Linked DNA regions of Homo sapiens: all the other regions are linked to region 3. Evidence: fine-mapped expression QTL. A gene starts in region 3. Each other region holds a variant in brackets. All regions are shown on one strand. Distances are between the middles of the regions. Region 1 overlaps HNRNPM (heterogeneous nuclear ribonucleoprotein M). Region 2 overlaps CLEC4G (C-type lectin domain family 4 member G). Region 3 holds the start of MARCHF2 (membrane associated ring-CH-type finger 2). Region 4 overlaps MARCHF2 (membrane associated ring-CH-type finger 2).

Region 1 (5,145 bases), 73 kb before region 3:
GAGAGGGGATGAGATCCCTGCTGCTTGGACTGGAAGCTCGAGTGACCCCAGCTCCCCACACCTCGCGTGGTTGCCCACACAGCACACACAAGCAGGCCGTTTTCAGGAACCGGTATTTATTATCAAAGTCATATTCGATGTCAACAAGATGCCACAACTACAAAAAAAATTGCGCACATTGCAATCTCAATGCAAACAGTCAAATGGAACCCCAGTCATTAAAAAAGTAATTCAAATTACCCCAAAAAGCAACTGAATTTTTTAAACATCTTTATACATCCAGCCAACAAATTAAAATGGTTAACAAGAAAAAATACAAATTCAGAGGTCTCGTATCGATGTTTAAAAAAGGCAACTGCTTAAGCGTTTCTATCAATTCGAACGTCAATCTCTCGGCCACTCAGCTTCATGCCATTCATCATCCGGCAGGCTCTCTCGGCCACCTCTGGCGACTCGAACTTAACCACGCCACACCCCTTGGACTTCCCATTCTCCATCTTGATGTCGGCGTACAGCACGTGGCCTAGGACAGGGAGGGAAGAAGAGACGACACTCAGTCCCGATTTTGTTAGATTTTGGTGGACAGAGTCAAAAAGGAGAGGCCCTGAAGCCTAGAGCACAAAGGCTCAGAATACAATGGCGAGAACCAATGACTACGGCCCCCTCAGCCACACTGCCATTCTTCTGCTAACAGAGCCTGCCCCTGCCCCATGAAAAGCCTTCCTGGCGGATTCAATGCACGCCTTTACGCTTCAGGAAGTTCAAAAAAGAAGGCGCAGTGTAAAGCCAGCTTTATAGGCAGAAAGTTCCCATACATTTTACAAAGTCTTCATTTTTGATATGCCACCGCCCCTGGTTACAAAGCCATCCGCAATCCAATGGACACGTCTGTACTGTCCAAATGAAAGCCAGCAGGTTTCACTTATTCATTTGAGCACCCGTTAAGCATCCAGATATGTGTCAACGCCGTGGACAGAGCCCTAGAGGGCAAAGGCTCTACTCCAGGAGTACCAAAGGTGGTAGGGCCACAATGCCAGAGGTGGGAACTCAGTGCCTAAGAGAGGGCCCAGGGCAGGTAGGGTGGAGGGGTCCTCAGGGGCAAGTTCTGAGTGAGCTTACACAGAAATTCACCAGAAAGAAGACTTGCCAGTAATTGGCTCACACGAGAGCATTGCGGGACACGTGCAGCACTTGCCGCTCAGGTTCTGGGACAGGAGGGAGATGGAGGAGGATAGGACCAGGTCTTCAAGGGGCTTGTGAGTCTGGACTTCCTCTTGAAGGCACAGGGCCGCTCCAGGCATTGCAAAAGTGGGGGCTGGGGGCGCTGTGATCCCACTGGCCTTTTCAGAATATCTAGCTACAACATGGGAACTCAGGAGTGGGGAAAGAGGTGAAGAATGGAGCAAAGAGGCAGATCATGACTCAACGGCTTGCCCCAAGAACCATGGAGAAGCAGCAATGGTGGTGAAATCGGAGCCACTGCTGAAACAGGAAGCGGGAGGACAGTGCGGAAGCAGCTGCCCAGACCTCTAGCTCAGGCCCCTCTAGCTAAAAAGAACAGAGGTGGTGCATGCGGGGTGGGGGCTCACCCTGGAGGGCAGGGAAGGAAGACAACTTGCTTTCAGCCACAGACAGAGCCCTCCAGAAGAGTTGCCCGATGTGCCAGGAAACCACAAGACCTTAGCCTCACCCTCACAGGAGCTGCTGTGTGCCCAGAGCCTGCACCGCCTCCCCATGGCACCTGCTGGGCTGTGTTCTCTCCGAGGCCCCACACCAGCTGTGCTGAGGGGAAAGCGACCTCGTCTGGGATGTATTTATTTAGCCTTGCCACCTAGAAGCCAGGTAACCTCAGAAGGAAGACTCTGCCTGACTCATCTGTGAAATGGGGACACTACTACCTTGTTTCAAAGACTCAAAAAGAAAAAAGGAAGTAAGGATGAAATGAGAACACAGCTGAAAAACATGTGACACATCACAGGACACTCAACAACCTGCCTGAGCATTGGCGTGGGCAGAACATGGCAAGGCCATGGGTCCTGAGCCGACGGAGGGGGCTGGGAGGGAGGTTTTGCTGCTGACTCGGCTGCGTCACCAACAAGCACGAGGGAAGCACCTACAAAGCCGTTCCCAACACTTACCGCACTCGTTGAATTTGTCCTTTAGCATCTTCCATGTGAAATCGAATGGCAGCTGAAGGGGAGAAGAAAAGGGAGACTGATGCGTGATTAAACCAAATCCTAAGGCATGCCTTGCAGCTGGCTCTGAGGGCCATGCTAGATTTCTCACTATACCGAGAAGCTGGCTGCCCTTCAGACTGAGGCGATCAGCAGGAAACTAATAGATACATGTGGGACAAGGCTGTGAAGCGGCACAGCCAGCTCCCTCCCTGGGGCTCTGCCTGTGGGAGCACCGTGCAGGATGGGACACTCAGGCCTGCGGTGCGCAGCCCACAGTCACTAAATAGTGGCTAAGGGTGGCTGAGCTGGGGAAAATAATTCCGTTACAGCCACTTCTTTCCCTGGACCATCGTGCAACACATAGTGCCTCTTCAAGCCAACCA[ATCAG/G]AAACTGGAGTCTCTGAGCTCAGCGTCTGCTCCATATTCTAGCACAGTGGAGAAGCCCAGGCTCTTCCAGAACCCACAGTTCTCACATTCCTTACTTGTCCCACTAGCATAAAACGTTTGGGACAGTGGCAAGGAGGTGTGGTCCCCTTTGAAGGGCGCCACCTCTGACTTCATCCTGCTGATCTTTGCCTCCCCTGTCCCCTCATGCTCACCACCACCAAGAAGTTCCCCAAGAGCCACTTACATTTCTCACAAATATCTGGCAGGCCTTCCTGGCCACCCCAGGAGCATGGCCTCCAGCTCCACCAAAGGAACCTGCGAAGCTTCCTCCGAAGTTGCCACGCTCCATCTCGATGGCACGGTCAAAGCTGGCACCGCCACCGCCACCCATGGCCAGGCCCATGCGCTCAATGCCAGCGCCCAGGGCCGGGCCCATGGCAGGGCCCATGCGCTCGAGGCTGTTGGCACCCATGCGCTCCAGGCCCATGCGCTCGAGGCTGTTGGCGCCCATGCGCTCCAGGCCCATCCGCTCCAGATTGTTGGCGCCCATGCGCTCCAGGCCGGTGGCCATGCGATCCATCACGGGGCCCATGCGCTCCAGGCCAGCTCCCATACCTGCGGGCACCATGCGCTCCATGCTCAGGCCCATGCGCTCGATGGCAGGGCCCATGCGCTCCACGCCAGAGCCCATGCGCTCAATGGTCTGGCCCACACGGTCGATGGGAGCGGCCATGCGCTCAAGGCCGAAGCCCATGCCGGCACCCATGCGCTCCACGCCAGAGCCAATGCGCTCCATGGTCTGGCCCATGCGCTCAATGCTGGAGGCCATGTGGTCGAGGCCCAGCGGGCCCATGCGCTCAATGCCGGAGCCCATGCGCTCCACGGAGCCCATGCGGTCCATGACCAGGCCCATGCGCTCGATCTCGGAGCCCACGCGATCCATGCCGTGGCCCAGGCCCGCGCCCATGCGCTCCATGCCGGCACCCCCGAGGCGGTCAATGCCAGGACCCATCCTCTCGATCCCAGGGACGCTTCCTCCACCTCCACCTGAAACAGGGACACAAAACACAGGTGGGTGTCAAGAACTTGAGTGTGCGTGTGCACAACACGCCAGACCACTTCAGCTCATGGGCATGGATCAGGGGTAAAGGCCCACCATAATTTACCATTAAGACACCCCTCAAATGTTGACAACAGCTACAGCTGTGTGGTGGGCACATGGGGGCCTCCCAGCATTCTCTCTGCTCTATGCCACAGCTGAGATTTCCATAACACAACTTCTAAAGAACACCCCTGTATGTGTGTCTGTGAGGTGCTAGTGTCTGTGACAAGCTTTGTGAACCATGGACGTCAATTCCTGAGACATCTGAGGTTTCTCCATCAGCAGACACTGAGAAATGCTCCAGGGGGAGGCATGGACACCCCCCACTCGGGGGGCCACCCAGGGTAATGAACAGGAGTTATGTGGAGACAAGTCGGAGTCACTCCCACCTTCCCCTCCCAGCCTGTCCCTCTAGGATGCTCTGCTGGGGGCCACTCTGGCTGCATTTCCTCAGCGCTCCCAGGGCACAGAGAAAGGATTTTCGGCCACACCATCAAGCAGAGGTCAAAAAAACACACACCGAGAGATCCTCTGTGTACAAATGCACACAGCTGGCCACTTTTGGGGACCCTATTGTCAGGGAAACCAAATGACTTGCTGGCTTTGGAAAGAAGATGTTGATGGCACTGCAGAGTGGGCTCTGGTAGCGGCTGGGGGTCAGTCAGCAGAACGAAGGGACGCCCCCACCCGTGGTGCTTGCAACTCTGGAAAGCAGGGTCTGGCTCCGTCAGCAAGGCCACCCCTTTCCACATGCCGAGTTTGGGGCTCCTCCCCGAAACCCTGTCGCTTGCCTCTGAGAGTGGCCATCAGCCCAGAGCCAGCCTGTGACCGACCCAAGCAGCCTAGTCAAAGATACCAATTCAAGAGGAAACTGGGCAGTTTCTCTAACTGGCTCTGTAACTGGCCACACCGCGCCTGCTTCTCTAGCTGCACAGCACACAGTGAGCGGCCAAAGCAGGCCCGACTCTAAGAATGTGTGACTTTCAGAGGGGAGACGTCTCAGAACTTCCCCACAGTATAAGGAACCTAGCGAGAATGGGCACTTTGCCCAAAGGCATCAGAAATGAGGTGGGGCAGCTGGGTGTGGTGGCTCATGCCTGTAATCCCAGTACTTTGGGAGGCCAAGGCGGGCGGAACAAGGTCAGGAGTTCGCGACCAGCCTGGCCAACATGGTGAAACCCCATCTCTACTAAAATTGCAAAAATTAGCTGGGTATGGTGGCGTGCGCCCGTAGTCCCAGCTACTTGGGAGGCTGAGGCAGGAGAATCGCTTGAACCCAGGAGACGGAGGTCACAGTGAGCCGAGATCGTGCCACTGCACTCTAGCCTGGGCGACAGAGTGAGACTCCGTCTCTCAAAAAAAAAAAAAAAAAAAGAAATGGGAGGAAATGGTACCAGCGTGGAGCTCCAGAGCCAGCCCAACACAGAAGTCAGGAGGTGAGATGCCAAGATACTCAGAGGGAAAATCAGGCTGAAAAAG
Region 2 (5,145 bases), 690 kb after region 3:
TTGGGGGCCTGGATGAGCAGGTGCGCAGGGGGAGGGGGCGTGGTCAGGCGGTGGGGCAGGGCGGGGCGGACTCTGCAGGCTCAGATGTCCCCTCCTTTCTAGGGCTTCCTCACTCGGAACACGCGTGGCCGTGGTTACTGGCTGGGCCTGAGGGCTGTGCGCCATCTGGGCAAGGTTCAGGGCTACCAGTGGGTGGACGGAGTCTCTCTCAGCTTCAGGTGAGGGAAAGGCTCCTGGTGAGACCTGGGGAGGGAGACAGGTTAGGCTCTAGAGGACATGCTTTGGCTAGATCTCAGGGACCCCTCGGCTGGGGCTCCATACTTAGGGATGGGCAGGCTGGACCCCAGGAACTGTCCTCAGGTTAAATTCTGGGCGTTAAAAAGTTATATACCAGGTGTATACTCAGGTTAGACAGTTGGGGTGTCTAGAGTAGACCCAAGCAATAAACAGGCTAGAGCCTGAAGAGGAAGGCGGGACCCCGAGTTCATCCTCTGTCTAGATTCCCAGCAACACCCCCACTCAACCCCCCTGTAGCCACTGGAACCAGGGAGAGCCCAATGACGCTTGGGGGCGCGAGAACTGTGTCATGATGCTGCACACGGGGCTGTGGAACGACGCACCGTGTGACAGCGAGAAGGACGGCTGGATCTGTGAGAAAAGGCACAACTGCTGACCCCGCCCAGTGCCCTGGAGCCGCGCCCATTGCAGCATGTCGTATCCTGGGGGCTGCTCACCTCCCTGGCTCCTGGAGCTGATTGCCAAAGAGTTTTTTCTTCCTCATCCACCGCTGCTGAGTCTCAGAAACACTTGGCCCAACATAGCCCTGTCCAGCCCAGTGCCTGGGCTCTGGGACCTCCATGCCGACCTCATCCTAACTCCACTCACGCAGACCCAACCTAACCTCCACTAGCTCCAAAATCCCTGCTCCTGCGTCCCCGTGATATGCCTCCACTTCTCTCCCTAACCAAGGTTAGGTGACTGAGGACTGGAGCTGTTTGGTTTTCTCGCATTTTCCACCAAACTGGAAGCTGTTTTTGCAGCCTGAGGAAGCATCAATAAATATTTGAGAAATGAATCCAGGATCCTGGCTCTGGCGAGATCTTCTGTGCTTTATTCCGGATGTCCTAGTTTAATCCGTACGAGTGACCCCTGGACTCTCTCAGTGACCTCTTGGCCTTTGGTGGGTAACTTGCCCTGGGCCAGGAGGGCTTGAAGGTAGGGGCAGTTTCCCACTCTACACCATTACTTCCTCAGTCCCTGGCATGGGGCTTGGCTCAGAGGGTGCTGGGGACACAGAAATGGGTCAGACGCAGTCCTTTCCCCTGGGACCGCTGCATTCTGGTCTAGCGGGGTACAGGAACAAAATGACCAGTAATGTAATGGATGAGTGTGTGGAGAGGACACCTGAAGCATTTGGAAGGGTCACCTTTGTCTTTGGGGAGAGGGACCATCCTGAGATACTGCAGTCCTTGAGAAGACTGTCACGTCTTCGTGGAGATTATGGGCATCCTGAGACAGGCCCTTGAGGCAGGTGGGGGACAGGGTACCCTGATGGAACGAGCAGGTCCCTTCTGCTCAGTGCATCTAGGGTCTGTGACTATTGGATGGGTCAGTCAGGAAATACATTCCAGAGAAGGTGGATTTTCCAAGGGACAATGGAATTTTGAGTAGATGAAGCTGGGAAGGTAGGACTTTGGAAGCAGAAGGTCCAGGAAGAAAAAGGCTTGGAGAGTGGGTGTGGTGGTGCAAGCTCGTAGTCCCAGTTACTCGGGAGGCTGAGGTGGGAGAATTGCTTAAGCCTAGGAGTTTGAGACGGCAGTGAGCTATGATCTTGCCTGTTGATATAGTCACTGTTCTCCATTCTGGGCAATGCAGTGACACCATATCTCAAAAAAAAGGAATACTAGGAGGTTGGAAGGTATACAGATTGCTGAATTCACACAGCAGTATATGTTACATAGAACCTGGGTTTCTCAACCAGGGACTTTTGATCTGAATTCACCCTACACTCCCAGTTTCTTGCTTCCATCTCGGAGAGTTAGGGGCTCTCCAAGAATTTCCCATGGAGACAGGTTCAACAGGGGAGTGACAGGTTGGCAGCTTTTAGTTCTGTGCAGAACGGAGTCTAGAACTACAGGCTGCTGGGAGCCCCCAGGCTGCTGGACCGTATAACAGCATCAGCTGAGCAGGAAATAGAAGGAACACCATCACATTCCCTGGCCAGGTGGAACTCTTCCACTGCTGTAACCTGTCAACCCCCCTATCCTCTGATCTTTCTAAACTTGCAGTCTGGAGCAGGCACTGGGCAAGTCCAGGAGCCTATTGACTTGCCTACTGGACTGAGGGCCAGGCTGCTGGACTTCCAGACACAGTTGGCTTGGAGGAGTGTTTGAGTTTCCCACCACTACTGTAATGGATTTTGCTGGGCAAAAACCAAGGTCTAAGGATGTATTAATCCGTTCTCATGCTGCTAATAAAGACATACCTGATACTGGGTAAGTTATAAAGGGAAGAGGTTTAATGGACTCGCAGTTCCACATGGCTGGGGAGGCCTCACAATCATGGCAGAAAGGAAAGGAAGAGCAAAGGCATGTCTTACATGGTGGCAGGCAAGATAACTTGCGCAGGGGAACTCTCATTTATAAAACCATCAGATCTTGAGGCTGGGCATGGTGGCTCACGCTTGTAATCCCAGCACTTTGGGAGGCCAAGGCGGATGGATCACGAGGTCAGGAGTTCGGGACCAGCCTGGCCAAGAGACCAGCCTGGCCAATATGGTGAAACCCCATCTCTACTAAAAATACAAAAATTAGCTGGTCGTGGTGGCAGGCGCCTGTAATCCCAGCTACTCGGGAGGCTGAGGCAGGAGAACTGCTTGAGCCCAGGAGGCAGAGGTTGCAGTGAGCCGAAGGTCATGCCATTGCACTCTAGCCTGGGTGACAGAGCAAGAGTTCATCTCAAAAAAAAAAATTAAAAAATTAAAAAATAAAACCATCAGATCTTGAGAGACTCATACACCACCACAAGAACAGTATGGGGAAAACTGCCCCCGTGATTCAATTATCTCCACCTGGCCCCACCCTTGATCCACAGGGATTATTACAATTCAAGGTGAGATTTGGGGAGGC[G/A]GACACAGCCAAACCATATCAAAGGGAAAATGTTTCTTTACCTCTTCTTTAGCTTTTCTAGAGCTGTTGTCCTCATCCTTCTTGACTCCTGGACCCTTCTTCCATCTTCAAAGGCAGTAGGGTAGCATCTAGCTTCAGCCATGACAATTACTTCTTCTGTATCAAATCTCTCTAGGAATGCCCCCACAATCACCTTTTTTTGAGACAGGGTCTTGCTCTGTCACCCAGGCTGGAGTGTAATAGCACGATCATAGTTCACTGCAGCCTCAACCTCCTGGGCTCAAGAAATCCTCCTGCCTCAGCCTCCCAAGTAGCTGGGACTACAGGCATGCACCACCACACCCAGCTATTTGTTAGTTTTTTTGTAGAGATGGGGTGTCACTATGCTGCCCAGGCTGGTCTTGCCTCCTTCTTATATGAACAGTTGGGATTGCATTTAGGGCCTGACCTGATAGTACAGGATGATCTCCTGTGGTTCCTTTTTTTTTTTTTTTTTTTAATTTTCTTTTTGAGGCAGGATCTCGCTTTGTCACCTGGGCTGGAGTGCGGTAGCATGAACATGGCTCACGGCAGCCTTGACTTCCCAGGTTCAAGTTCAAGCAATCCTCCAGGCTCAAACAATCCTCCTGCCTCAACCTCCTGAGTAGCTGGGACTACAGGCGTGTGCCACCATGCCTGGCTAATTTTTTTTATTTTTTTGTAGAGAAGCGGTCTCATTATGCTGCCCAGGCTGGTCTCAAACTCCTGAGCTCAAGTGATTCGCCTACCTTGGCCTCCCAAAGCACTGGGATTACAGGCATGAGCCACTGCTCCTGGCCTCCTGTAATTCTAAATGCAGTTCTGCCACTATTCACCCAGATAGTGCAGACTCCACCCAGAGGTTAAGGACACAGTCCCCATCAAGACTGCTCTCATTTCAGATACCAGCTACAAGTTTGGGGATCCCCAGCCACCCACATTTCTGATCAACTGCCTACAAATTCTCATGACCCCTTCAGGTTCCATAATTCACTAGAATGACTCCCAGAACTTAGGAAATGCTATGCTTACGATTTCAGTTTGTTTTTTGTTTTGTTTTGTTCTTTGTTTTGTTTTGTTTTTTTGTTTGTTTTTTGAGACAGTGTCTCGCTCTTTCGCCCAGGCTGGAGTGCAGCGGTGCGACCTCAGCTCACTGCAACCTCTGCCTCCCGGGTTCAAGCAATTCTCCTGCCTCAGCCTCCCAAGTAGCTGGGACTACAGGCGCCCGCCACCACCATGCCTGGCTAATTTTTATATTTTTAGTAGAGATGGGGTTTCACCATGTTAGCCAGGATAGTCTCACTCTTTTGATCTGGTGATCCACCCGCCTTGGCCTCCCAAAGTGCTGGGATTACAGGCATGAGCCACTGTGCCTGGCCCTGATTTCAGTTTTCTTAACAAAATACAAATCAGGACCTGCCAAATGAGAAGATACATAGGGTGAGGTCTGGGAAGGTCCCAAACACGGAGCTCCTGTGTCCTTCCCCATAACGTCAGCACACATCACTCTCTCTATGCCTTCCCCACTCTCAGGGTGATGGGTTCACCAGCCAGGAAGCTCCAGAGCTCGGTGTCCTGAGTTTTTTTGGGGTTTCAGTATGTAGGCAGGATTGATCCAATTACTCCTTCAGTGTTTCAGTTTTGTTTGTTTTTTTTTTTTGAGACCCGGTCTTGCCCTGTTGCCCAGGCTGGAGTGCAGTGGCATAATCATAGCTCACTGCAGCCTCAACCTTCTGGGCTCAAGTGATCCTCCCACCTCTCAGCCTCTCGAGTAGCTGGAACTACAGGCACATGTCACCACCCTGTCCAGCTAATGTTTGTATTTTTTGTAGAGACGGGGTTTCACCATATTGTTCAGGTTGGTCTTGAGCTCCTGAGCTCAAGTGATCCTCCTGCCTTGGCCTCCCAAAGTGCTGGGATTACAGGCATGAGCCACCTCACAAGGCCTCGGGAGTTTTTAGTGGGGTCTCATTACACAGGAAAGATTGACTGAATCGTT
Region 3 (5,145 bases):
CCAGGCCTGGAAGAGGCCAAACTTGAGGCTGGACACAAAGAGAGGGTGACTGCAAGTCGGACTCAGCTCTGAGGCTGCTGAAATGGGAGAGTGATCTGATGGCTCCAGCAAACTTGGCCCAGTGCCCAGGAGATTTATTTCTCTTCTTTCTTTTGTCTGGTTTTTTTTTTTGTTTTTTTTGTTTTTTTTTTTTTGAGATGGAGTTTCACTCTTGTTGCCCAGGGTGGAGAGCAATGGCACCACCTCGGTTCTCTGCAACCTCCGCCTCCCAGGTTCAAGCGATTCTCCTGCCTCAACCACCAGAGTAGCTGGGATTACCGGTGCCCTCCACCCACAGCTGGCTAATTATTTGTATTTTTAGTAGAGACGGGGTTTCACCATGTTGGCCAGGATGGTCTCAAACTCCTTATCTCAGGTGATCCACCCGCCTTGGCTTCCCAAAGTGCTGGGATTACAGGCATGAGTCACCGCGCCTGGCCTATTTCTTTTCTTTCTTTTGTCTGTTTTTTTTTTTTTTTCTTTTGAGGCAGGGTCTCAATCTGTCACCCAAAAGGCTGGAGGGCAGTGTAGTAATCACAGCTCACTGAAGCTTCCACCGCCCCCAGGTTCAGGTGATCCTCCCACCTCAGCCTCCTGAGTAGCTCTGCACACCACCACATCCAGCTAATTTTTGTATTTTTTTGTAGAAATGGTGTTTTGCCAAGTTGCCCAGGCTGGTCCTGAACTCCTGGCCTAGTGATCTGCCCGCCTTGGCCTCTCAAAGTGTTGGGATTACAGGCATGAGCCACCACGCCCGGCCTGGAGATAGATCTCATTGAGTCTTCACAACAAACCAATAATTACACCCTATGATGGGGAAAGAGGCTGAAGCTCGGAGAGAGGCACCTACTTTCCCAAGGTCATATAGCTAGGAAGGGGTGGTGTCAGAATTTGAACTTAAAACAGTCCAGGGAGTGGTTCTGGACCTCAAGAGACCTGGGTTCTTTAACTCCTGGCCCTCCTGGCTATGCCACCGATGCTGGGTGTCCTGGTTCAAGTCACTTTGCTTCTCTGGGCCTCATTCTAATGATGGAGCTGGTGGACTCTGTCCGTGGAGGGGTCTCCTGAGAAGGAGCCTCCAGGCTGAATTCATCCAGTAAAGCTCACCCTTAGCTAGGCTTGTTTAGGGTGGCACTGAGGCCCCCCAGTCTTTTCCATACCTGCCCAGGCTCCTTTTCCTGAAGGTAGGAAACAGAGGGCAGAGGAATCAGAGGGCCCTAAAACTCCCTACATTGTGGTCTCAGGCAGCTGTTTTACTCTCTCAGCCTCAGTATTATCATCTCTAAAATGAGTGTTACAGGCCGGGCGCAGTGGCTCACGCCTGTAATCCCAGCACTTTGTGCACTTTGGGAGTTCAAGGAAGGTGGATCACTTGAGGCCAGGAGTTCGAGACCAGCCTGGTCAACATGGTGAAACCCCGTTTCTGCTAAAAAGACAAAAATTGGCCAGGCACGGTGGCGGGGGCCTGTAATCCCAACTACTTGACCAGGGTGAGGTAGGAATCGCTTGAATCTGGGAGGCAGAGGTTGCAATGAGCTCAGATCGTGCCACTGCATTCCAGCCTGGGCAAGAGAGAGAGACTCTGTCTAAAAAAAAAAAAGACGGGGAGTCATAATGATATGTAGTTCATAAATTAGTAAAAAATTAAGAAGTTAATAACTATTAGCTCTTATTATAATTACTATCATCAGCTTACAGAGTTGTTGATGAGAGGTCACACAGTCAACCCTGGCACACACAGTAAGTGCTCAATAAAAGCTCTATTAATATTTTTTAGGGTAAATGTGGAGGTTGTTATTGCATTCATTCCTCCCTGCATGAGAAGCAAGGTTCCAATCCCAGCTCTACTCCTTATGTGCTGTGTGGCCCTGGGCAAGACACTTAACCTCTTTGAGCCTGGACTCTCTCAACTGTATAACAGGGGACATTTCTACTGCTTCCACCTACTCAGTATGGTTTCAAAAGAACTGAATGAGCTCAACATGCCCATTTGACTACCCCGTTTTGAGCACCCACATAGCACAGGGCATCCTGTTTCAGCATCTTTGTGCAAAGTGGCTGGGTCATTATATTATAACTTACTATTTTGCAGGCAGAGCCGCTCTGAGAAGGAGGTTGGGGAAGGGCATTGGCCACTTAGCAGTTGCCTACTGTGTGTCAGGCGTTTTCTGCACCAGCCACCTCCTGAATCCTCCCAGAAGCCCCATCAGGTTGGCAATGGGATGACCCAGTTTCACAGGTGGGGAAACCGAGGCTCGGAGAGGCGCCTATGTGTGCCGGACCCCGGAGACCTCCCACCGGCCTTGACACGGGAACTGAGGTCCCCGCGTCCCCGAGAAGGCTGTGGCCAAGGGATCGAGCCCAGCCGTCCCGCCCGGGTGCCGAGCTCCGGCCTCGAACCCGGGGCCGGCCCGCGGACTGGCGTCCTCCGGCCCTACCTGCAGGCCCGTGCCTACCTGATCCGCGGCCGGGCCGGGCGGCCGCACAGGCCCCTCGGTTCGCCTCGGCCCCGGTCCCGGCCCGGCCCGGCCCGTCGGCGCCACTAGCTCCGCTCCGGCCGGCACCTGCGTCCGGGCACCGCCCGCCGAGCCGACAGCGCCGCGGACCAATAGCGACCGCCTCTCGCCTGCATTCGCCAATCGCCTTGCACGTCCCGCCCTAAGAGGCGGGGCCGGAGGCCACAGGGACGACTTGGGCCGCACAGGCCCCGCTGTGCCGCAGCTGCTGGCTCCGCCCCTGCCGCGTCTTGGCTCCGCCCCCAGCTCCGGCTCCGCCCCAGCACTGGCCCCGCCCCAGCCCCGCCCCAGGCACGAGGGGGTGCTGCTGCGCCACCTGCAGACGGCCAGCGTCCTCTAATAAATAAAACCTCTGCAGAATTTAACTTTTTTTTTTTTGAGACTGGCCGGGTGCAGTGGCTCATGCCTGTAATCGGAGCACTTTGGGAGGCCGAGACGGAAGGATCGCTTGAGGCCAGATGTTGGGGACCAGCCTGGGCAACATGGTGAGTTCCCGTCTCTACAAAAAATTTAAAAGGATGGGCGCGGTGGCTCACGCCTGTAATCCTAGCACTTTGGGAAGCCGAGGCGGGCGGATCACGAGGTCAGGAGATCGAGACCATCCTGGCTAACACGGTGAAACCCCGTCTCTACTAAAAATACAAAAAAATTAGCCGGGCGTGGTGGCGGGCGCCTGTAGTCCCAGCTACTCGGGAGGCTGAGGCAGAGGAATGGCGTGAACCCGGGAGGCAGAGCTTGCAGTGAGCCGACATCGCGCCACTGCACTCCAGCCTGGGTGACAGAGTGAGACTCTGTCTCAAATAAATACATAAATAAATAAATAATAAAATAAAATAAAATAAAAGTTAGCCAAGTGTGGTGGCCCAGGCCTGTAGTCCCAGCTGCTCTGGAGGCTGAGGCAAGAGGATCACTTGAGCCCAGGAGTTCGAGGCCAGTCTGGGCAACATAGTAAACTCACCCACCCCCATCTCTAAGACAGATCAATTTTTAAAAAAATACTGCACTATATGTTCACTTAGTATAAGCACACTTTTGCACATAATCACAGTATAACCTTCAAAATCAGAAAATTAATGTTCATCTAATATTATCATGTAATTCCCAGAGCCCATTCAAAGGCCAGGTGCAGTGACTCATGCCTGTAATCCCAGCACTTGGATCATTTGAGGTCAGGAGTTCGAGACCAGCCCGGCCAACATGGTGAAACCCTGTCTGTACTAAAAATACAAATAATTAGCTGGGTTTTGTTGTGGGCACCTGTAATTCCAGCTACTCAGGAGGCTGAGGCAGGAGAATTGCTTGAATCTGCAAGGTGGAGGTTGCAGTGAGCGGAGATCTTGCCACTGCACTCTAACCTGGGCAACACAGCCAGACTCTGTCTCAAAAAAAAGAAAAGAAAAGTTTCCAATAAAGTCCTTTAAAAATCCAAAGTCCAGGCCAGGCACAGTGAGTCATGTCTGCAATCCCAGCTCTTTGGGAGCCCAAGGCAGGAAGGTCTCTTGGGTCTAGGAGTCTGAGATCAGTCTGGGCAGCACAGTGAGACCCCATCTCTACAAAATAAAATAAAAATATTAGCCAGTTGTGGTGGCATCCTCCTGTGGTCCCAGCTACTTGGGAGGCTGAAGTGAGAGGATCAATTGAGCCCAGGAGTTCTGGGCTGCAGTGAGCCATTACCTCACCACTGCATTCCAGCCTGGGCAACAGAGCAAGATCCTGTGTCAAAAAACAAAAAATCCCAAATCCATCCCAGGATCAAGCATTGTATTTTGTTGTTAACGACTCTAATTTAGTCTCTCTTTCTGGAACATTTTATCAATCTTACCTTCTCTCCATGACATCAATATTTTTCAAAAATTCCAGGCTAGTAATTTTGCAGGAAGTCCTTCCATTGCTATTTGTCTAATACTTTCTCATGATTTTGCATTTGTGGCAGGAAACAGATGTGACGTTGTGTTTTCAGGATGCATACAATGCTGATTTTGTCCACTATCGATTGTGCTAACTTGGTTCAAATGGTGTCTGCCAGTTTCTCCAGTGTGAGGTTAGTATGTTACACTGTGGTGTTTTGTTGTTGTTGTTGTTTTTAATATTTTATTTAATTTTAATTTTTTTTTTTTTTTTTTGAGACAGAGTCTCACTCTGTCACCCAGGCTGGAGTGCAATGGTGTGGTCTCAGCTCACTGCAACCTCTGCCTCCCAGGTTCAAGGGATTCTCCTGGCTCACCTCCCGAGTAGCTGGGATTACAGGCCCGCACCACCACGCCCAGCTAATTTTTGTGTTTTTAGTAGAGGCAGGTTTCACTATGTTGGTCAGGCTGGTCTTAAACGCCTGACTTCAAGTGATCTGCCCACTTCCGCCTCCCAAAGTGCTGGGATTACAGGCAGGAGCCACCACGCCCGACCAATTTTTTTTTTCTTTTTTGGCGATGGAGTCTCATTCTGTGGCCCAGACTGGAGTGCAGTGGCGCCCTCTCTGCTCACTGCAACCTCCGCCACCGGTTCAAGTGATTTTCCTGCCTCAGCCTCCTGAGTAGTTGTGATTACAGGCCCGCACCACCACGTCCAGCTAATTTGTGTATTTTTAGTAGAG
Region 4 (5,145 bases), 25 kb before region 3:
CAGCCACCAGGCCTGGCCCATGCTGGACTCTCTACACTTAACTAAAAACTAACAGTGGCTAGGCGCAGTGGTGCATGCCTGTTGTCCCAGCTGCCAGGGAGGCTGAGACAGGATTGCCTGAGCCCAGGAGGTCGAGGCTGGAGTGAGCTGTGTGATTGTGCCTCTGCACTCCAATCTGGGTGACAGAGCAAGACCCCATCTCAAAAAAAGAAAAACAGAGGCCAGCATGGTCTGTGGACTGGCAGATGCAAAGTAAGAGGAAATTGTTCTTATGTCTATTTTATTTTTCTATTTTTTATTTTTTGAGACAGAGTTTCACGATGTCACCCAGTCTGAAATGCAGTGGTGCAACTGATCTCAGCTAACTGCAACCTCTGTCTCCCAGGTTCAAGCCATTCTCCTGCCTCAGCCTCCCGAGTAGCTGGGATTACAGGTGTGCGTCTCCACGCCCAGCTAATTTTTGTATTTTTAGTAGAGATGGGGTTTCACCATGTTGGCCAGGCTGGTCTCGAACTCCTGACCTCAGGTGATCCACCCATCTCGGCCTCTCAAAGTGTGATTACAGGCATGAGCCACCATGCCCAGCCCGTATGTATATTTTAAAAATCATTTTTATAACCCTGCTACCTGATTTTTACTTGAAGACTGAGCCTTTGCTTCTTCCCATGGGCTTCAGAACAGATCCCTCAAAACAAGCCAGTGGTTTTTATTGTTTTTTATTTTATTTTATTTTTTTTGAGACAGAGTCTCGCTGTCTCACCCAGGCTAGAGTGCAATGGTGCGATCTTGGCTCACGGCAACCCCTGCCTCCCGGGTTCAAGCGATTCTCCTGCCTCAGCCTCCCGAGTAGCTGGGACTACAGGTATCTGCCACCACGCCTGGCTCATGTTGTATTTTTAGTAGAGACGAGATTTAACCATATTGGCTAGGCTGGTCTCGAACTCCTGACCTTGTGATCCGCCCACCTCAGCCTCCCAAAGTGCTGGAATTCCATGCATGAGCCACTGTGCCTGGCCAACCAGTGTTTTTTGTTGTTGTTTTGTTTTGTTTTGTTTTGGAGATGGAGTCTCTCTCTGTCGCCAGGTTGGAGTGCAGTGACGCCATCTCAGCTCACTGCAACCTCCACCTCCCAGGTGCAAGCGATTCTCCTGCATCAGCTTCCTGTGTAGCACCTGGGATTACCGGCGCGCACCACCATGCCCAAGTAATTTTTATATTTTTAGTAGAGACAGGGTTTCACCATGTTAGCCAGGATGGTCTCGATCTCTTGACCTTGTGATCCACCCACCTCAGCCTCCCAAAGTGCTGGGATTACAGGAGTGAGTCACTACACCTGGCTGGCCGCCAGTGTTATTTTTTTACCTCCATGTGGTCCCTCCCTGGGAGGCCTCCTTTGAGAAACATAACTGACAAGTCCATTTTGTCCAGCCAGGGCTCCTTTTATTCATTCAGGGGTGGGTTTTTGAAACGCAGTGCAACTTTTATATAAAGTCGAGGGTGCCAGGAAAGTGGGCCTGCCGGGTGCAGAGAAGCGCAAGAAGCTTGCTGGAATGTTCCAGCTTTAAGGGCGCCCTTGATACACCGGCCACAGCTGCTGGCCCAGAAGGTGCCATGTGGACCTCAGAATGAGATCAGGGTGCCTGCTCCGTCCAGAGCTCAGGACCATGTCCACCTGTCCTCCATATGCAAAAAAAAAAAAAAAAAAACCCTGAAAATATCTTCACACAGGATCACAGACTAGGCTCTGCATGGTGTCTCTTGGCCTAAGAAGCGTTCAGGCCGTGCGGGAACTGTTGAAGTGGAAGTGTTGAAGTGGAAGTCCTTCCACAGGACAGGGTATCACCAGCTACCTCTGGCCTCTCTGCTGCAGGGTCCGGAGAGCCCAGCATTCATACTGGTGTCTCCTCTGCCACCTTCTTCAGGAGTCCAGCTGCCAGTGGAGAATGCTGGGGGCCCTCGGGGCTGTCCGCCTCC[C/G]GGATCTTCAGGCGAACTTTCTGGTTGGTCTTTCTCCACTCGGAGTACAGCTGGCAGTGGTAGCGGAAGGAGACCTGTGGGGCAGCCCTGCAGTGAGCGGAGGCCTCCACCCGCAAGGGAGGAAAACAAGTCGCCGTGGTGGCACCTGCGTTGGCCCAAACCATGGCTGGGGCTCATGCTTCCAGAAGCAGAGCTGGCTTATGAACATTCCTCCCACAAAGTGCACACACACAGACCCATTCACACTCCTGGTGACACCCACCAGCTTCCAGAGTCCTGCAAAGACAAGATACACCCCACACACACCAGCAGGAAGCAAACGGGAGCTCCTTTCCTGCCTCTCAGTGGGAAAGGAGTGAAACAGCCTCTTGGAAGGCATTAAATGTCAATCAATCAGGCCGGGCGAGGTGGCTCACACCTGTAATCCCAGTAGTTTGGGAGCCCGGGCACGGGGGAAGATCACTTGAGCTCAGGAGTTCAAGATCAGCCTGGGCAACATGGAGAAACCCTGTCTCTACTAAAAACCCCGTCTCTACTAAAAATACAAAAATTAGCCTGGCGTGGTGGCACGGACCTGTAGTCCCAGCTACTTGGGAGGCTGAGGCAGGAGAATCGCCTGAGCCTGGGAGATATGGGCCGCAGTGAGCCGAAATCACGCCACTGCACTCCAGCCTGGGCGACAGAGTGAGACCCTGTCTCAAAAAAATTTTTTTAATGTAAATCAGTCACATAATTGCCAAAACGTGCAACCAGAACGTGCAAACAAAAAAAAAAAGTTTAAAAAAAAAAAAGTCACTCAATAGGTGAATGAGGCCAGGCGTGGTGGCTCACGCCTGTAATCCCAGCACTTTGGGAGGCCAAGGCAGGTGGATCATGAGGTCAGGAGATCGAGACCATCCTGGCTAACACGGTGAAACGCCATCTCTACTGAAAATACAAAAAATTAGCCGGCCGTGGTGGTGGGCGCCTGTAATCCCAGCTACTCGGGACGCTGAGGCAGGAGAATGGTGTGAACCTGGGAGGCAGAGCTTGCAGTGAGCCGAGATCGCACCACGGCACTCCAGCCTGGGCGACAGAGCGAGACTCCGTCTCAAAAAAAAAAAAAAAAAAAATAGGTGAATGAATAAATAAACAGTGGTGCTTCCAGATAATGAGATCTTATTCAGTGCTAAAAAGAAACGAAGCTGGGTAAGGTGGCTCATGCCTGTAATCCCAGCACTTTAGGAGGTCGAGGCGTGGGGACCACTTGAGCTCAGGAGTCGAAGGCCAGCCTAGGCAACATAGCGAGACCTTGTCTCTACCAAATATTTAAAAATTAGCCAGGTGTGGTGGCCCAGGCCTGTGGTCCCAGCTACTTAGGAGGCTGGGGTAGGAGAATCATTTGAGCCCTGGAGGTTGACGCTGCAGCAAGCTGTGCTCACGCCACTGCAATCCAACAGAGTGAGATCCTGTCTCAAAAAAAAAAAAAAAAATGCTGGGCGCAGTGGCTCAAACCTGTAATCCCAGCACTTTGGGAGGCCAAGGTGGGTGGATCACCTGAGGTCCAGAGTTTGAGACCAGCCTGACCAACATGGAGAAATCCCATCTCTATTAAAAATACAAAATTAGCCAGGCATGGTGGCGGGTGCCTGTAATTCCAGCTACTCAGGAGGCTGAGGCAAGAGAATCGCTTGAACCTGTGGGGGAGGGGTGCGGAGGCTGCGGTAAGCCGAGATCGCTCCACTTCACTCCAGCCTGGGTGAAAGAGCGAGACTCTGCCTCAAAAAAAAAAAAAAAAAAAAAAAGAAAGCCCTTAAGCCACGAAAATAACCTTAAATGCTTATCACCAAATGAAATAAACCAACCTGAAGATGCTGCATACTGAATGACTCCAACTATAGGACATTCTGGAAAAGGCTAAACCATGGAGACAGTAAAAAGATCAGCAGTGGATAGGGCTTGGGGAAAAGGAGGGTGGCATGAATAGAGAGAGCACAGAGGACTTTTAGGGCAACGAAACTACTCTGTCTGATATTATAATGGTGAATATGGCTGGGTGCAGTGGCTCACACCTGTAATCCTAGCCCTTTGGGAGGCCAAGGTGGGCAGATCACGAGGTCAAGAGATCGAGACCATCCTGGCCAACATGGTGAAACCCCATCTCCAATAAGAATACAAAAATTAGCTGGGCGTGGTGGCACAGGCCTGTAGTCCCAGCTACTCGGGAGGCTGAGGCAGGAGAATCGCTTGAACCCAGGAGGCGGAAGTTGCAGTGAGCCAAGATCGCACCACTGCACTCCAGCCTGGCACACAGTGAGACTCTGTCCCCCCCAAAAAAAAAAATAGTGAATACATGTCATTATACATTCATCAAAACTTATAAATGTCCAACAGCAAGAGTCAACTCCTAGCCTGGGCAACATGGCAAAACCCGGTCTCCACCAAAAAAATACAAAAATTAGCCAGGCGTGGTGCACACATCTGTAATACTAGCTACTCAGGAAGCTGAGGTGGGAGGATCAATTGAGCCTGGGAGGTTGAGGCTGCAGTGAGCCATGATCACGCCACACTGCACTGCAGCCTGGGTGACAAAGAACAATCCTATCCCCTCCCCGCCACACACACACACACACACACACACACACACACACACAGGCCAGGTGCAGTGGCTCACACCTATAATCCCAGCACTCTGGGAAGCCAAGGTTTGAGCCCAGGAGTTTAAGACCAGATACAACAACATAGCAAAACACTGTCTCTACAAAAAATACAAAAACTAGCCAGGTGTGGTAGTGGGCACCTATGGTCCTAGTTACTTGGGAGGGCCGAGGTGGGAGGATCGCTTGAGCCCAGGAGGTAGAGGTTGCAGTGAGCGGAGATCACACCACTGCACTCCAGTCTGAGAGACAGGGCGAGATACCATCTCAAAACAAACAAACAAAAGAAGTGAATCCTAATGTGAACTATGGCTTTAAAGGGATAATGAAGGTTCACTGATTGTAACAAATGCACTGCTTGGGTAAACGATGTTAATAGTGGGGGAGGCTGTGCAAGTTGTGTGCGTATGGAGCAGGGTGATATACAGGAACTCTCTGTACTTTCTGCTAAATTTTGCTGTGAACCTAAAATTGCTCTAAAAATTAGTCTATAAAAAAATTTAAAAATGGCCTAGTGTGGTGGCTCACACCTGTA

The links.
Region 1: its variant is fine-mapped to the expression of MARCHF2 in whole blood (TOPMed, PIP above 0.99).
Region 2: its variant is fine-mapped to the expression of MARCHF2 in hippocampus (GTEx, PIP 0.93).
Region 4: its variant is fine-mapped to the expression of MARCHF2 in anterior cingulate cortex (GTEx, PIP 0.98). The same link has a PIP of 0.9 or more in B cells, CD4 T cells, CD8 T cells, NK cells, monocytes and monocytes after LPS.

Annotation. Positions count from the first base shown.
Region 1 is chr19:8,484,069-8,489,213 of GRCh38, reverse strand. HNRNPM (heterogeneous nuclear ribonucleoprotein M) reads right to left here. Exons shown (of 16, transcript NM_005968.5): 14 at 2,809-3,611; 15 at 2,139-2,190; 16 at 100-523. The coding sequence ends at 360. Among named protein-coding and RNA genes, the nearest start is that of PRAM1, 16 kb to the left of the region's middle. RefSeq lists enhancers at 1,605-1,654, 1,945-2,034. The variant ATCAG/G (reference allele first, on the strand shown) is at 2,561.
Region 2 is chr19:7,724,894-7,730,038 of GRCh38, reverse strand. It overlaps CLEC4G (C-type lectin domain family 4 member G), which reads left to right. Exons shown (of 9, transcript NM_198492.4): 7 at 1-20; 8 at 103-218; 9 at 535-1,082. The coding sequence ends at 673. Among named protein-coding and RNA genes, the nearest start is that of CLEC4G, 4.6 kb to the left of the region's middle. The variant G/A (reference allele first, on the strand shown) is at 3,129.
Region 3 is chr19:8,410,771-8,415,915 of GRCh38, reverse strand. MARCHF2 (membrane associated ring-CH-type finger 2) reads right to left here and starts at 2,611. Exons shown (of 5, transcript NM_001005415.2): 1 at 2,496-2,611. RefSeq lists silencers at 1-291, 2,445-2,604, 2,635-2,994 and enhancers at 2,486-2,986, 3,857-4,151.
Region 4 is chr19:8,435,291-8,440,435 of GRCh38, reverse strand. MARCHF2 (membrane associated ring-CH-type finger 2) reads right to left here. Exons shown (of 5, transcript NM_001005415.2): 5 at 1,419-2,048. The coding sequence ends at 1,890. Among named protein-coding and RNA genes, the nearest start is that of HNRNPM, 7.1 kb to the left of the region's middle. The variant C/G (reference allele first, on the strand shown) is at 1,975.